Linked DNA regions of Homo sapiens: region 2 is linked to region 1. Evidence: fine-mapped expression QTL. A gene starts in region 1. The other region holds a variant in brackets. All regions are shown on one strand. Distances are from middle to middle. Region 1 holds the start of EXD3 (exonuclease 3'-5' domain containing 3). Region 2 overlaps EXD3 (exonuclease 3'-5' domain containing 3).

Region 1 (8,319 bases):
GATGACAGAGCAAGGCTCCTTCTCAAAACAATTTTTAAAAAGTAAATAAATATCTTTTACAGAATTTTATTTTTTCTAGAATTATATTTTTTGGGATTTTAGATTTGAGGGGTTTTGATATTTCAGGATTGCGAGGCTCTCGGGACTGTGATCCACTTCCCCACAGAGCCTGCCCTCCTGGGATGGGGCCTGTGAGTGTCTAGCAGAGAGGCCGAGGCATGGCCTGGTCTGCAGTCCCGATGGTCTCCTTTCCCTCATTCCTCCTTTAGGAAGGGACATGGTGCAGAGAGCCCAGGTAAGCAGTGAGGACCCCACGACCTGTGTCCAAGGGTGGCGCTCAGCAGAGGCGAGGGCCACAGTCTCAGGTTTCCCTGGAGCCAGGAACCATGGAGGAGGGGGTGGGCAAGAGGAGGGAGTGGATGGAGAGGGAGGAGGAGGAGGTGCAGGAGTGGACTCTGCAGGGAGACAAAGGGCCGTCAGAGAAGGAACAAGGCACCCCTGTACTCACCTTGCCAGCTGGAAGTTGGCCACTCCTCGCTGGAAGAAGCCAACCGCCATGCAGGTGTCCTTGGTCACGGCTTGGTCAAATGCCTGGGGACAAAAATGCCCACGGGATGCCAAGGTCTGTAACCTGGTCACGCAGCATCACAGATACAGCGTGATGGGTGACAGGGCCACGGAATTCCGTCAGCCCCTGGGGACCCCCCACAGCCCCTCCTGCTCCTGTCCAGGAACCTTCGGAGCCCCTGCCTGGGCAGGGCTGTCGCCACTCAGGTTGCCACAGCCCACCCAACCCCAACCCGTCCAAGGCGCAGAGCCCACTGAGGTGCTGCTAAAACCAATGTGTTTACCATGAGCACAAGGACAGAGGCCAGAAAAAAGTGTTCCAGTATGTTAATAATAGTTACCTCTGGGGAGTGGGGTTATGCAAGATTTTTGTCTTTTAAAAATCCTTTTTTTTTTTTTTGAGACGGGGTCTCGCTCTGTCACCCAGGCTGGAGTGCAGTGGCTCGATCTTGGCTCACTGCTGCCTCCGCCTCTGGGTTCAAGACATTCTCAAACTCCTGACCTCAGGCAACCTTGGCTGTCACATACTGGAGACGAGATAACGCAGTCCAGATCCCAGAGTCAGCAGCTAAAGAACTGCATTACAGGCCGGGCATGTTAGCTCACGCCTGTAATCCTAGCATGTTGGGAAGCTGAGGTGGGCGGATCACCTGAGGTCAGGAGTTTGAGACCAGCCTGGCCAACATGGTGAAACCCCATCTCTACTAAAAATACAAAAATTAGCTGGGCATGGCGGCACGCGCCTGTAGTCCCAGCTACTCGGGAGGTTGAGGCAGGAGAATCGCTTGAACCCGGGAGGTAGAGGTTGCAGTGAGCCAAGATCGCACCACTGCACTCCAGCCTGCAAGACAGAGCGAGATTCCGTCTCAAAAAATAAATAAAATAAAAATCCTTTTTTGATAGTTCATGCAAAATGACACCCTAGAAATCTATTAGAATCAGAAAGAACAACACACGTCTTCATGTGTTTATCTGTGTGTAAAGCACAGCTCTTCCTTAAACCAGACTCAGGAGGACACAGAAGGTTCTGAACAGGGACCGTGGCCATCAGTTAAATGTGTGTGACAGGAAGGGTGCTACGGTCTCTTTCACAAATCTGGCTGAGTGGGGGCTTGTCGTTGAACCAAGTTCACACAGGTGTGAAGTGTGGCGGCTGAGCACAGGCACGCAGCCCTGATGTGGGGTGGCGGCTCAGGGCCAGCAGAACCCACCTGTCTGCCCCAAACGTCACGCAAGGCTCCTAACAAGAGACAGCAGTTCCAGCGACACCCTCTGCACCCTGGGCTGCCCCTCACGTGATCGGCTTTATGAATCATAGCTGTTCCATCTGCTTTCCTAAGTTCCCATATTCCTAACATGCATATGCTGTGGGTTAGTCGTATGACTTTCACTGCGTCCCCTCTCTGTAGTGAAACCAGGCACAAGAGCACAAGTGACTGGGTTAGCCCCGGACATAGGATTTGTTGCTGAACCACCTGGTGTCTAAAGATTACATTCCCTTTCTTGGATAACATTTTAAAATGAAATCATTGTGGGCCGGACAAGGTGGCTCACATGTGTAATCCCACCACTATGGGTGGCCGAGGAGGGTGGATCACCTGAGGTCAGGAGTTCAAGACCAGCCTGACCAACATGGTGAAACCCGTTTCTACTAAAAATACTAAATTAGCCAGGCGTGGTAGTGGGCGCCTGTACTCCCAGCAACTAGGGAGGCTGAGGCAGGAGAATTGCTTGAACCCGGGAGGCAGAGGTTGCAGTGAGCCAAGATTGGGCCACGGCACTCCATTCAGCCTGGGTGACAGAACGAGACTCCATCTTTGAAACAAACAAAAAAATGAAATCATTATGGAGGTGATTGTAAATTTGTACGCAGCTTTAAGACACAAGAGAGGGGGGTCTCATGCGCTTTGCCCAGTCTCCTCCAAGGGGGATATTTTGCCAGTCAGGGGCGTGGAGACCCTCCCACAGCGCGCAGTTCCCTCTCCTTTAAATCACTGCTGTCACCGAGCCTTCAGTAACCGTGGGCACCTGCCTGCTTCTGCGGGGTGCTTGGGACTGAGCGGGGGTGGGCAGCGCTGGCGTTTGGGATGCGCAGGAACAGGCGGCCCCGGAACGCGAGGGGGCACGAGAAGGGCACCGGGCTCCGTGCAGGGCCTCGGCCGCTGCACCCTGGCACCCTGGACTCCTGGCTGTTTCGGGGAGTGGGCTGGGGGAGGGCTGAGGGCTCTGAGGAGGAGACTGACCCGGTCTCCCGGCCATGACCACAGGCGCAACGCTTTCCCCTTAGGGCAGGGCGGTCCCTCGGGCCTGACCCAGCCCAGCAGCTTCCCCCTTCCCGGTGTGAGTCACCCTCGGGCCCCGGCCTCTCCCGGTGACCGCCGCGCCCCCCAGCGCGGCCTCGCTTAGCTCAGGTGCGGCCCCCCTGCTCGGCTCCCACCTGCCGGGGCGTTCGCTGGGTCGGGGGCGGCAGGGCGACCCCGTGACGGTCGGGGAGGGGCGCTGGGCCCTCCCCAGGGGCTCGAGGCGGAGGCGTCGCCCGCACCGGCCTCCCCACGCCCCGCTCACCCGCAGCGCGGCCTCGGGGTCCCCGGCCAGCAGGTGCACGCAGCCCGCGTTGAAGCACAGCCTGGCGGGCGGCGCCGGGACGCCCGAGAAGAGGTGCAAGGCGCGGGCCCAGTCCCCACGATCCACAGCCTGCGCGCCCAGGTGCCAGGCGCGCACCAGGTCCCCCAGAGAGGCCATGGCGGCCGGTGGCGGCGCTCGAGGAGGGGCCAGGATCCCGCGGAGGGGCCGGGGCCGGGGCCAGGCGGCGGCGCGGGGCTGCGGGGTCTCCGAGGCGGGCAGAGGTGCGGGCGCCAAGCGCCAGGTGCAACCCCGCTGCCCCGCGGCGCCCCCTGGCGGCAGGCGCCCGCCCCTCCCCGGTAAGGCCACGCCCCCGCCAGAAACGGCTACGCCCACTCCAGACCCTCAGGCCTCGCCCACCTCCCATTCGGCCCCCGCCCCGGCCGGACTTCCGCCGGGAGCTTTGTGCGCCCGGCTTCCTCGCCCCGCCCGCGCTGGCCTTGGTGCGCCGGATAAAGCCCTCCGGGCCAGCGGCTGCGGTCGGGCCAAGGTTCCGCGCCGGGCGTGGACGGTGTGGGGCGGTCCCGGCCCCGCAGGTGAGCGACCCCGGGCCGCGCGGGCCAGGTGGGCGGTCTGGGCGCCGGGGGCAGAGCGGGGCCGGGCCGGGTGCGCGTCCTGAGGTGAGGGCCGTAGCTGGGAGTGAGCCGGGGGCGGGCCGCCGGCTCTCCCGGGGTGGGGAAACTGAGGCCCCGATGGGGCGGGGAAGGTGCGTTCTCCCGCAGGGCCCCGCTCCGGAGGCCGCCGAGCAGCCGGACGCCGCGGGGAGCTGAGCCGACCCCGGCGACCCCGCCGCCCTGTCCCGCAGGGCCTGCCCTCCTCCGCGCCTTCCGAGCACGGACATCACAGGACCCGGAGGCCCTTCGCTCCCTCGCCGAGGAGGAGGCGCTCCCGGTGGGACGCGCGCGCGCCCGCCCTGCCCTCCCCGGGAGAAGGGACGGGCGCCTCCCTGCAGGGGCCCTGGCTTCCTGTCCACCGGCGCTGAGTCCTGTATTAGTTGTCAACCTAAAATAATTAAAAGGGTCAGAATGTGGTGCCCGGTGGGTTTATTCAGGCACAGAGGTCGAGGGCGGCCTGGGTCACCAGGTGCAACGGAGAACAAAACAGAGGCTCAGGTTTTTAAAGAAAACAGAGCCCATCGGAGAGCAGGTGGTTTCGAACGTTGCCCAGGAGCTCACTGGCTTGTAGAAATGGCATTGGTTCGCGATTGACCACGGCTTGGTGTCATCAGTGGATAGTTACTTGGCTCGAGGGGTAGTGAGGGGCTGCGGTTTCATTTGAAATGCTTTCTGGCACTTAACATCAAGCTTTCTGGGCCCACAGTTTAAAAGGGCTTTACATTCCTCAGATAAATGATTTTTTTCTTTCTCATTTGCCCCCCTTTTGATCAAAATCTTTCTTCTTGAAAGCATTGATTATCAAAATCTGAGGGTCAGAGTGTCCCCTCTTGCTGGGAAGGCTCATTCCCACATAGTCCTGTCCCATGCCAAGCAGGGAAGGAGGAGACATTTCAGGGAGTTTTTTTTTTTTTTTTTTTTTTAAGAACACCACAAACTGAATTGGAATGGCATTACAGGGTGGCAAACATGAGGTCTCAGTGAAGTCATTAATTTATACAACTGCTGTCACCTGTTGAATCATCTCTAGTTTTTAGAAACACCATTAATTTTAATTTTCTCAGAAGTAACACATAGGACTATAACCAATTTGTATGCCAGGATGAAAAAAACAAACCTGTTCCATTAGGGAGACAACTAAAAACATGAAGAAACTAAAATCCATGTTCTTCTTTCTTTTTATTTATTTGTTTACTTAGAAATGGGGTCTTGCTCTGTCACCCATGCTGGAGTGCAGAGGCACGATTCCCACTCATCGCAGCCTTGAACTCTTGGGCTTAAATGATCCTCTTGTCTTAGCCTCCTGAGTACCTGGGAATACAGGTGTTTGCCACCAGGACCGGCTAATTTTAAATTTTTTTGGTAGAGACTAGGTCTTGACACCTTGCCCAGGCTAGTCTCGAACTCCTGAGCCCAAGTGATCCTCTCATCTGGGCCTCCCAAAGTGCTGGGGTTATAGGTGTGAACCTCTGCCCAGCCAGGTTCTTCTTTGAGACTTGTAGCCAGAAGATTGTTCAGGATTTAGTCCAGATTGTAGGAAAATAAAAAATACAATGATCAGGGCTAGAATCCAGTAACAGGTATGCTGTAGTTTTTCTCTGAAACATAATTTTTCTCTACTTCCCCATTTCTACCAAAGATAAATCTTGGTAAGACCAATTTACTTGTAAAATAAATTTTAGGATTATATTTGGCCTGATTATTTGCCTAAAGTACAACAGTGGTGATTGGCCATATAGGCTCCTTTCTAAACTGGCTGGAACTTTGCCATAAGGAATTTCAGACTTTTTTTCCCCACATCAGACAGGTAATGTGCTGGCGTCATAACAGCGTTTGAAGGAGACAGACCCTACACATGAGGCAATCATCATGCTTATGAACTACAAGAGGGTCAGAATAGACCTTTAAAAGCCACTTGAGGGCTGGGCATGGTGGCTCATGCCTGTAATCCCAGCACTTTGGGAGGCCAAGGTGGGAGGATTCATTGAGCCCAGGAGTTTGAGACCAACCTGGGCAACATAGCGAGGTCCCTGTCTCCACAAAAAATTTAAAAATTACCTGGGCATAGTGGTGCTCACCTGTAGTCCCAGCTACTCAGGAGGCTGAAATGGGAGGATCGCTTGAGTCCAGGAGATTGAGGCTGCAGTGAGCTATGATCGCACCACTGCACTCCAGCCTGGGTGACAGAGCGAGACCCTGTCTCTAAACAAAACAAACACTTCCCATGTCTAGGAAGCCAAGCCAGTGGCTCCCCATCACAGTGTATGTATAATACCTGTATGAATTTGGGGGGGGGGGTGAATGTCTGTCCTCCAGGTCCCAAACTATCTTGAAGTTCCTGGATCTGTCGGAAAGTGACATTCTTTCCTTACCTCAAGGCCAAGAACCTTTTAAGGGAACTATGTAAACAGGGCACCAGTCCAGTCATCCCAAGGGGCTTTTTATTGGCTCTATAAAGCGAACCTCGATTCCTCAAAGCAGTCTCGTCATATCCAAAAATACGTCATCCCAGTCCAAGCCTTGGTAGAATAACCAGGGTCTCCAATTGTGTCCTGTTACAAGGACAACAGATTCTTACTGAACTCATGCAAAGAACTACATTGCCATAAAATAAGAATACTCATGAATCGCTTCCAGATTTTTGAGAAATCAGGTAGAGAAAAAGACAAATATTTCAGTTTTGCTCACAAAAGTATATGTCACTCAATTGCTATAGCTATAAATAGCTCAAAAAGAAAAAGGTTTTCTGACTCTGGAAAACAAAATATAAAAAGAGTCAGCAAGGTTTCGATAACAACAAAAAATCATAAAAAGCATTTCAGGCCTCTATCAGTTCAGTTCTATGTAATTTGCTGGGGTTTTTTTTGTTTTTTTTTTAGGCGGAGTCTCCCTCTGTCGCCCAGGCTGGAGTGCAGTGGTACAATCTCGGCTCACTGCCAGCTCCGCCTCCCGGGTTCACGCCATTCACCAGCCTCAGCCTCCCGAGTAGCTGGGACTACAGGCACCTGCCACCATGCCCGGCTAATTTTTTTGTATTTTTAGTAGAGATGGGGTTTCACCGTATTAGCCAGGATGGTCTCGATCTCCTGACCTCGTGATCCGCCCGCCTTGGCCTCCCAAAGTGCTGGGATTACAGGCATGAGCCACCGCGCCCGGCCGCTTTTTTCTGTATGATGTTGGGTTAACAATCCTCATGAATGCATCAGCTTTTAAATAAGAGTCCTGGAAGTTTTTATCTGGTCTACTGGTGTGATCTCCCAGGTTATCGGAAGTCTGTATACTTGTCAATGTCCTTTCCATGAATTTCCTTGAAGAAAATGCAAATTTTGGACTGTACCTTATTTTATTTTATTTATTTATTTATTTTGAGATGGAGTCTCGCTCTGTTGCCCAGGCTGGAGTGTAGTGGTGCGATCTTGGCTCACTGCAACCTCCGCCTCCCAGGTTCAAGCGATTCTCCTGTCTCAGCCTCCCAAGTAACTGGGATTACAGGCATGAGCCACCATGCCCAGCTAATTTTGTATTTTTAGTAGAAACGGGGTTTTACCACATTGGCCTGGCTGGTTTCGAACTCCTGACCTCAAGTGATCCACCCGCCTCAGCCTCCCGAAGTGTTGGGATTACAGGCATGAGCCACCGTGCCCGGCCTTAAACTGCATTTTGAGAAGAATCAAAGTAAAACAGTAATTTTCTGCAGATGACAAAAGACTTAGAGTAGCCATGGGTGAAGACGCGATTGGCAGGGAATTTGGTTACTTCTGAGGTTAAAACAGTTTAACATATAATCGTAATCACGACTGATAACATATACCAAGACATGTCAGAATTTTTAGGAATCTCATACAATTTTGGAACATATGTTAATAATACATTTATACCAATATAACTCCAACAGCATTCCACATTTGACAATGCTTCCTGTATGATTTTAACATACCACATAAGCCTCGTACATCTCCCTTGGACTTCTCGGGGTTCCTATTTGTTATATCCAAGTTAGTTCAGGTGAAAAAAACCCTTAATGTTAGGACTTGAAATTTGGTTTTGGGAAGTCAAATATCAGAGGCTTAAAACAATCTCAAAATAGGACCACAGGTCACTGTAAAATAAGCCATTCATTTAATCAAATTGGTAATTCAGAGATTTCCCAAACCAAAAACCTTTACTATGACAGAGAGGAGACTTAGTTTCCCAAGCAATCAATAGACCTACTAAAGACAGCGTGAGGCAAACAGAATGTCTCTCCCTCTTTCCCCTTTTTTTTTTTCTGTTTACTCAGAAGATAAAAATATTTTACAATCTCTTATTACTACACGAAATGTTGTTCAAAAGAAAAACAAACTCTGCTTTTCTTATACATCTCACGTACAGAATTGTTTCTCTTATATTTAGTAGTTTCAGTTACATATATTAATTACAGTGTTAACTTCGTGACCCTAATTTTCCGTTAAAAACTCAGCGAGTAATTTTGAACTGTATGTGTAGATGGAAACCATTTCATCATGTTTTACAGAGA
Region 2 (8,319 bases), 36 kb after region 1:
TAACCTGTTTTCTCATCTGAATGATGATTCTAACGCCAATACCGGGCCTCATTTCTGTGTGAATATTGAAGGAGTTAGTTTATGTGAAACCACCCAGAACATACTGTTATCTTTTTAGTTTTTATTTATTTGTGTAATTTTTATTTATTTACTTTTTTTTTTTTTTGGCAACAGAATCTTGCTCTGTCGCCCAGGCTGGAGTGCAGTGGCACAATCTCGGCTCACCACAACCTCCGCCTCCCGGGTTCACGCCATTCTCCTGCCTCAGCCTCCCGAGTAGCTGGGACTACAGGTGCCCGCCGCCACTCCCGGCTAATTTTTTGTATTTTTTTAGTAGAGATGGGGTTTCACCATGTTAGCCAGGATGGTCTCGATCTCCTGACCTCATGATCCGCCCACCTCAGCCTCCCAAAGTGCTGGGATTACAGGTGTGAGCCACCGCGCCCGGCCATTTTTTTTTTTTTTTTTTTTTTTTTTTTGACAGAGTCTCGCTCTGTCACCCAGGCCGGAGTGCAATGTCGCAACCTTGGCTCACTGCAACCTCCACCTCCCAGGTTCAAGTGATTCTCCTGCCTCAGCTTCCTGAGTAGCTGGGATTACAGGCACCCACCACCATGCTTGGGTAATTTTTGTATTTTTAGTAGAGACGGGGTTTCGCCATGTTGGCCAGGCTGGTCTCGAACTCCTGACCTCAGGTGATCTGCCCGCCTCGGCCTCCCAAAGTGCTGGGATTACAGGCATGAGCCACTGTGCCGGGTCTGTTACTTTTTAAAAATAGGCATTTCATCTTCCAATATTTCTGTTGTAGGTAGGATCTTTTCTTCAGCAGATTTTCTGACCTGCGGTTGCAGAATGAAATTTGGGGATCTCTCTGTCCCTCTCTGCATGCATCCACCTGGCTCCCAGCGTCCCAGCTCCTTGCTGGTCTCACTGTCCCTCTCTGTCCCTCTCGCTCCGAGCGTCCCAGCACCTCGACGTACTCACTGTCTCTGAGTGGCGTCCGCCTCATGCCCCCTGAGCTGGTACCGCCCTTTCCCTCTCTGCCTCCTTGTGGGGTCCACAGCATCGAACGGTGGGCTCTCCCCCTCATCCCGCTTTCCCAGCAGAGGCAGCTTGGGCTTAGGCTGGGTCAGGTTCTGTCTCCAAGGCCCTCGGCTTCATGGATGAGGCAAGTGAGTAGGACTGAGGGTGAGGGGACCCATGACCGATGAGAGACGGTGCTGTGCTGGGGTTGTGGGCCGCTGTGTTGATAGAGCAAGGGGCTCCGTGCCAGATGCTGGACCTCCGGGAGCCCCTTCACCTCACTCCCCAGACACGGGCGGTCCTCTGCGGCGAGCCGAGGTGGAGGGCACACGCTGTCCGCCGGGCTTGGGGTCTCGTTGCCGCCTCTGTCCTTATCACGTCCCCCGCCCTGCCTGCAGCTGAGCACAGGCAGATGTGGGTGGAATCTGAGACCAGAGACGGTTGGGCTGGAGGGGGTGGCCCCATCTCAGCTGCCCCCGGACGCCAGAAGGCCACCAGGAGACAGACTCGTGGCAGAGGGACGGAGGCCCCAGTGCGTGGTGGGTGGGCGTGGCCTCTCAGGACACGCCTGCGGGAGGTGCCATGGGGTCTCTGAGGGGAGCTGAGGCCGTGGGCTGGCCCTTTCTGCTGTCCGTGGGCGGTCAGAGGACTGACCCAGGCGGGGTGCTGTGCTGATAGCAGGTGCCTGGACCCGTGGACATGCAGGTCACCACAGCGCGTGGGGTCTGGTCTGGGCGGCCGGGCTCTTCTACACTCACTGCCGCGGGGTCTGATGCTGCTGGCAGGTGTGGGACGGCCTTGGAGACGGGCTGTGAGCTTTGTGACCCAGGCCCCAAGAGGAGAGCCAGCTGCCGGGGAGACCCACTCGGGGGCTTTGTGAAGACCACGTCACAGACTTCCTGCCTGGAGGCCGGGTGTCCCCTGCCAGCATCCGCTGCCTGGTGTCCTCTGCCTGGCGCCCGCTGCTGGGGTCGGCCTCAGTTCCTGGGGCTTCTGTGCCCCCAACCCTGTGGATAAAAAGCCCCCTGTGTTTCTCATCCCCGCTTTATGGTAGAGTGTCGGGAATAACAGAGCCTTCGGCGCCACCCACTCCACAGCCCACAGTTTCCCGCGTGCGTCTGTGTCTCAAGGTGAAGGCAGCCCCATTAGCCGGGTGTCGTTTGGAGGAAGTGGCGTCCCTGTGTTCTGCCCATCCTGCGTCCCTGCAACCATCCGTCCTCCCGTCGGCCGGCGCGGGGGTGTCAGCTGGGGAGCCGTCCTGGGGACAGATGGTGGAGCCGTCCTGGCCGCCTCTGCCTGGACACCCTCAGGCCAACCCCACAGAGTTCCTGAGCCCTCCCAGGCACGTTTTGGGGAGGGTGGCTGGGGGGGAAGCCAGTGTGGGCACCAGGCTCTGGTGCTGGGCAGGGACCATGATTCAGCCCCCCAGAGAGAAGCAGCCCAGCTCTTGGATGTGAATCCACATTCGGGGGACTGTGGGACTTTTATTCTTGAGCTTGAGTTTTTTCTAGGTGTCCTCCTAATACACAGCTGCCCCGCTCTGCCCCCACCCACATGGTTCCAAGGGGCAGGGTCCAGGGTCAGGGCCCAGCCTCCTGGCCAGGGCCATCTGTCTCAGCGTCCTAGACCTGCCTGTCTGCAGGTCCCAGGCATCGGTGCAGCACTGATGAACTTGGCGAATTCAGGGAACTTGGGCCTGGGTGTGGAGGTGGGGGCCAGAGGCCACCCACGGAGCTCCGGCCAAACATCCACGCTGGGGACCAAAGGCCCCCAGAAGCTACTGCACGAGGAGGCGACCTCAGGGAGGGCTGGCTGGGGCTTCTGGGGCCGGAGAGCGGGTCTGGGAGGTCCCTCGGTGTCAGCTCCAAGCCCCACCCGCCCTTCTCGGACCCCGTGCCCCTGCGTGGTATCCCTGAGTTGGGGTGCGTGGGGTGCTGTGTGCTGAGTGGGGTGTGTCCCCCAGGGCTCTCCCAGGCACCCTGTCCTCTCACTGCTGAGCCCTGGGGCTCACAGAGCTCGCTTGTCTTCTTCGTTCAGAC[A/G]GAAGCCGCCCCTGGACATCCTGTTTTTCTTCTGTTGTATGAACAGGAAGCCAGCAATTGTGTGGGATGAGTGTCAGCATGGCCGTGTCTGAGCCCGGCACGGCAGACACTTGTCCCGCCACACCTGCCATGGGTCCCTCCAGCTCTGGCCCGAGAGACTCAGGGCTCCCCAGGGCTCCCCAGTTGCGTGGGCTGTGAGCACCATGTGTGCACGGCTGGCCCTGGAATGGCTGGGGCGGGCACCGTGGAGTGTCCATCGTGCACCGGCCATGGCCTGGAAGGAGACCCAGGCGGTCACTGCCCTGGGGCTCAGCGTTGAGGCCACAGTGAAGCGACAGGGGCAGAAGGGCAGGGGCCGGGGGCCAGGCAGGGAGCGGGGGCCGAGGGCCAGGCAGGGAACAGAGGCGCTGAGGGAGGCAGACAAGGAGTAGGGGCCGGGGGCCAGGCAGGAAGCAAGGGCCGGGGGCCAAGCACGGAGCAGGGGTGCTGAGGGAGGCAGGCAGGGAGCAGGGGTGCTGAGGGGGCCAGGCAGGGAGCGGGGGTGCTGAGGGAGGCAGGCAGGGAGCAGGGGTGCTGAGGGAGGCAGGCAGGGAGCAGGGGTGCTGAGGGAGGCAGGCAGGGAGCAGGGGTGCTGAGGGGGCCAGGCAGGGAGCAGGGGTGCTGAGGGGGCCAGGCAGGGAGCAGGGGTGCTGAGGGAGGCAGGCAGGGAGCAGGTGTGCTGAGGGGGCCAGGCAGGGAGCAGGGGTGCTGAGGGAGGCAGGCAGGGAGCAGGGGTGCTGAGGGGGCTTCCGGGCAGGCTGCTGGGTGCTCGAGAAGCAGCCTCAGGCCCAAGGGGCAGGGTCCAGGTACACGGAGGTTGGAGGCTGGGAGGATGTGGTGGGCCCTGGCTTTGACTCTCAAGGCTGAGGGGCCACGGTGGAGTCCATAAAGTGGCCTGGCCTGCCCCATATTTCTGTAGGATGCTAGGGCTGTGCCGTGTTGCGCGGCTGGGTGTTGTCTGAGGGCACAGCGTCAAGGCAGGGAGTCCCCTGGGAATCTGGAGTGGCCCAGGTCGGTGGGAGGGGGCAGACCCTGCCCACCTGGAGGGCAGAACCAGCAGGACCTGAGCAGGGCAAAGACCAGCAACACTGACTGGGGAGTAGGAGGGCCGGCATCACCAACTTCCCACCTGGAAAGGTGGATCTCGATTTGGAGAACTTAAAAAGAATAATAAGGACACCCTGCTTATTGATGGATGGATTGATTGACAGGTTCTCACTCTGTCCCCCAGGCTGGAGGGCAGTGGCACAATCAGGGCTCACTGCAGCCTCAACCTCCCAGGCTCCAGCCATGCTCCCACCCCAGCCTCCCAAGTGGCTGGGACCTCAGGAGCGCCACCATGCCCAGCTAATTTTATTTATTTTGGTAGAGATGGGGTCTTGCTGTCTTGCCCAGGCTGGTCTCAAACTCCAGGGCTCAAGCGACCCACCCACCTCAGCCTCCCAAAGTGCTGGGATTACAAGTGTAAGCCACCTTGCCCAGCTTCACCCTGCTTTTAAAAATATGTGAAATATACATAACATGAAATTTACCATTTTAACCACTTTCCTGTGTACACTCAGTGGCATTAAGGGCACTCATGTGGCTGCACAGCTGCCACCACCGTCCACCTGCAGAACCTTCTCATCTCACGCATCTGAAACTCTGCTTTAAAAGAAAATCTGGGCTGGGCGCGGTGGCTCACGCCTGTCATCCCAGCACTTTGGGAGGCCGAGGTGGACGGACCAATTGAGCTCAGGAGTTCAAGACCAGCCTGGCCAACATGGTGAAAACCCGTCTCTACTAAAAATACAAAAATTAGCCAGGCGTAGCGGTGAGCGCCTGTACTCCCAGCTACTCCGGAGGCTGAGGCACGAGAATCACGAACCTGAGAGGTGGAGGTTGCAGTGAGCCGAGATCACAGCACTGCACTCCAGCCTGGGTGACAGTGAGACTCCGTCTCTAAATAAAATATTAACTTAAATAACAAAATAAAAGTCTCTTTTGTTTATTGTGAAGTGCAACCCATGTGTAGGAAGGAACGCAGAGCACATGATGCGGCTCGGCACATGATCGTGAACACACCACAGCACGCCCCGCCCAGCCCACCCTGGCCCCATCGCCAGCCATGCCCAGCATGCAGCACCCAGAATGCGGGGCCAGTCACACTGCCTGCCATGGCCACGTGGTGGGGTACGTCCTCCCCACCTGGGCATCGTCCCGGGGCTGATGCACTTGCTCCGTCCTCCTACAGTGGACATTTGAGTGTTCTCAGCCTCTGTATGCAGCACACTGTGCACGATGGTGGGACGGTTCTGAGCGCAGACGGGAACACTGGCCTGTGCCACCCAGGCCCAGGTGGCTGCAGAGACGCCATGGTGGAGCCTGGGCGCCCCACGGTGTTTTATGGTTTTTTGGTTTTTGTCTGAGACGGAGTCTCGCTCTGTTGCCCAGGCTGGAGTGCAGTGGCCCGATCTCGGCTCACTGCGACCTCCGCCTCCCGGGTTCATGCTGTTCTCCTGCCTCAGCCTCCCGAGTAGCTGGGACTACAGGCACCCGCCACCATGCCCAGCTAGCTTTTGTAGTTTTAGTAGAGATAGTGTCTCACCACGTTGGCCAGGCTGGTCTCGAACTCCTGACCTCAAATGATCCACCTGCCTCGGCCTCCCAAAGTGCTGAGATGACAGCCGGCTGGGTTTTGTTTTGCATGAGCTGCTTTTGTTACATTTCTCCCAGGGAATCTGACATTGCTGATGCTGTTGTAAGTGATTTTTGAAATGGCCATTTCTGTTTATTGCTGATTTTCTCATTTTGGCTTGTGCTGAGCATTGATGCCGAACCCATTGGTTAATTCTAACGGCGTAGTTTTGATCCTTCGTGGCTTTCTGTGTAATCAATCACATTGTCGGCCGGTCCTGATGTTTCTGTTTTCCTTCTGCATTGGATGCCACCTGCTTGGGACGGCTCCAGGCCGGGCTGTGGCATCCTTACGTGCTGCCCTGAGCACCACGTCTCACGCTCGCCCATGGCTTTTACCCAGTTCAGGGCGCTCCCTGCCCGTCCCAGGTGAGTTATTTCTTAAATTGTGAGCTGAACTGAATTTTAGAACACTTGCTCTGTGTCTACCGAAAGGGCCACGTGGTTCTCTCCTCCGTTCCGGTCCTGGGCTGAATCATAACCTTGGACTCTCCTGTTAAGTCAGCCTGGCTCTCTGGGGTGACCCCCGTCACACACGCTTCTCTGGCGTGTGTGGCAGAATCCAGCTGCTGAGGTCTGATCTGATCTCATGTGAGTCCTCAGCCTCCCTCGCAGCAACACGGGGCCTTCCCTGTTCCCGTCCTGCCCTGCAGGGGGGCCCAGCAGCTTCCACAGCCCCCCAGGTCCAGGGGGAGTTCACTGCGGAATCCACCCAGGCTCCTGTCCTCAGGCCTCCCCTGTGGAGTCCCTGCTGGCACCTGCCCCTCCCTGGCCTCCGACCCTGACCCTACCACATGACCAGGCCTGAGTGGGTCTCCACTCCCCTGCACCACCGGCCTCCAAGCCAAGCCACGCAGCCCCTGGGTTCTGTCTGGAAACCTCCCTCGGGTCTCGCTCTGGTGGCCCTGTCCGTGTGGGGCAGCGTCTTTGGTTGGCACTTTTGCTGCAGTGAGGTCGGGGGCCTCCCAGGCGGGGCTGGAGGGAGGGGGCGGCGCGGGAGGGCCGGGGACCGAAACCTAAAGAGGGCAGGGGCTTGGGGTCCTCGTGGTGCCAGGACTGCGGTGCAGGGTTTGGGTGAGAAGATGCTGATGAGGTTGCCGAGGGCGCCAGGCGGAGCAGGTAGAGGCTCAGGCCCACGAGGGCTGCTCTGCACCTGCAGCTGAAAGATGAGGCCCAGCTCCCAGGGCTGAGCGTGGTTGAAGTGCTGCTGGGCGGACTCAGCTGGATGGGCGGCCACGGGCCACAGGGAAGGAACAGGGTGGGTGCTGCCGCAGCTGGCAGGTGTGTTGTGTGTGTGCCAGACAGAGGTGGGGGAGGGTTCCCGGCCCCCCGGGTCCAGAGGAGCCCCAGGCATTGCGGGTCAGTGGGAGGGACTTCCCGGCGGGCTGTGCGATAGCCCCTGCACCTGCCTCTCCCTCCCACGGCTGTTATCTTATCTCCACAGGCCGGGACCCCCTCCTGCTCCTGCAGGCCCTGCAGACCCTGTGGTCCACGCGGGAGCGGAAGCAGGTGAGTGGACGTGGCAGCCACCACGTGCCAAGTCACAGCCAGCAGAACTGACTGTTGGGCAGAGACTGGCCTAACAGGAGGCCTCCCTGGTCAGGAAGCTGCACAGCCCCCCACGGCCACAGGGTCCTGCACAGCTGCTGCCCCAGACCGCCTCCAGGGTGGCCTGTGTGGGGCAGGGGGCGGTCCTCCTCAAGTCCCCAGGGTGGTAAAGGCACTGCCTGGCCCCAGCAGCCCCTCTGAGGTCACCTCTGGGAGGCGCAGGGGCCACTCACCTGCAGGGACACAGCTGTCGCCAGCACTGCCAGGCCTGAGGCCCCGTCCTGCCACCGCCAGAGCACCCAGGCCCGGGTGGCCACTGGGGCAGGTGTCCAGGACAGGGAGGCCTTAGGAAGGGGTGGGACTTGAGCAGGGCAGGAGGCTGGGCGGGAGAGGCCAGGGGAGAGGCTACAGAGGGAGGGCCGGCCCCCTGTGGGGGCAGACGCGGATTCCGGCTCCTTAGTGGCAATGGCCTGTGCACAGGAAGCTGCCAAGTCCTGAGTGCCGCGTCCTCTGGCCCGAGGTCGCTCCTGCAGGTCCGGGGGACGCCCTCCAACCCCAGCCCAGCTCCTCTGAGTGCCACATCCACTGGCCTGAGGTCACCCCTGCAGGCCCGGGGGATGCCCTCTGACCCCAGCCCTGGCGCTGCCTGCTCCTGTGTCTGCCTCTCTCCTGCACCCACCTCTGCCAGCTTTCGTTTGTCCATCAGCTCGGTGGCTTCTTGGGCCTCCAGCTTGTGAATCTCTGTCCTTGCTTTTGAGATTTCCCTCTGCCGTTCCATTTCCAGGCTCTCTTGTCGGACCTTCGTCTGTGACGCTCAGTCTTCCTCGCTCTTTGGCACCTGCGTGTGTGGTGTGAGCCTCCCCGGGTCCCGCCCTCTGCCCCCCGCCCCCCACGTGTCTGAGTTGTGGGATTCCACTGTCCTTTCCTCCCTATGTCCTGACATTCGTCCTGGCGTCTCCTTGGAGCAGCGCTTGTTTATACACAGACAGGGCTG

The links. PIP is the estimated chance that this variant, and not a neighbour inherited with it, causes the effect.
Region 2: its variant is fine-mapped to the expression of EXD3 in lung (TOPMed, PIP 0.96).

What each region holds. Positions count from the first base shown.
Region 1 is chr9:137,418,520-137,426,838 of GRCh38, reverse strand. EXD3 (exonuclease 3'-5' domain containing 3) reads left to right here and starts at 3,677. Exons shown (of 22, transcript NM_017820.5): 1 at 3,677-3,725. It overlaps NOXA1 (NADPH oxidase activator 1), which reads right to left and starts at 3,446. Exons shown (of 14, transcript NM_001256067.2): 1 at 3,133-3,446; 2 at 509-591. The coding sequence starts at 3,309. It also overlaps the pseudogene LOC124902354. RefSeq lists silencers at 3,216-3,775, 3,796-3,935, 3,946-4,085.
Region 2 is chr9:137,382,280-137,390,598 of GRCh38, reverse strand. It overlaps EXD3 (exonuclease 3'-5' domain containing 3), which reads left to right. Exons shown (of 22, transcript NM_017820.5): 3 at 7,222-7,286. Among named protein-coding and RNA genes, the nearest start is that of EXD3, 37 kb to the left of the region's middle. The variant A/G (reference allele first, on the strand shown) is at 3,063.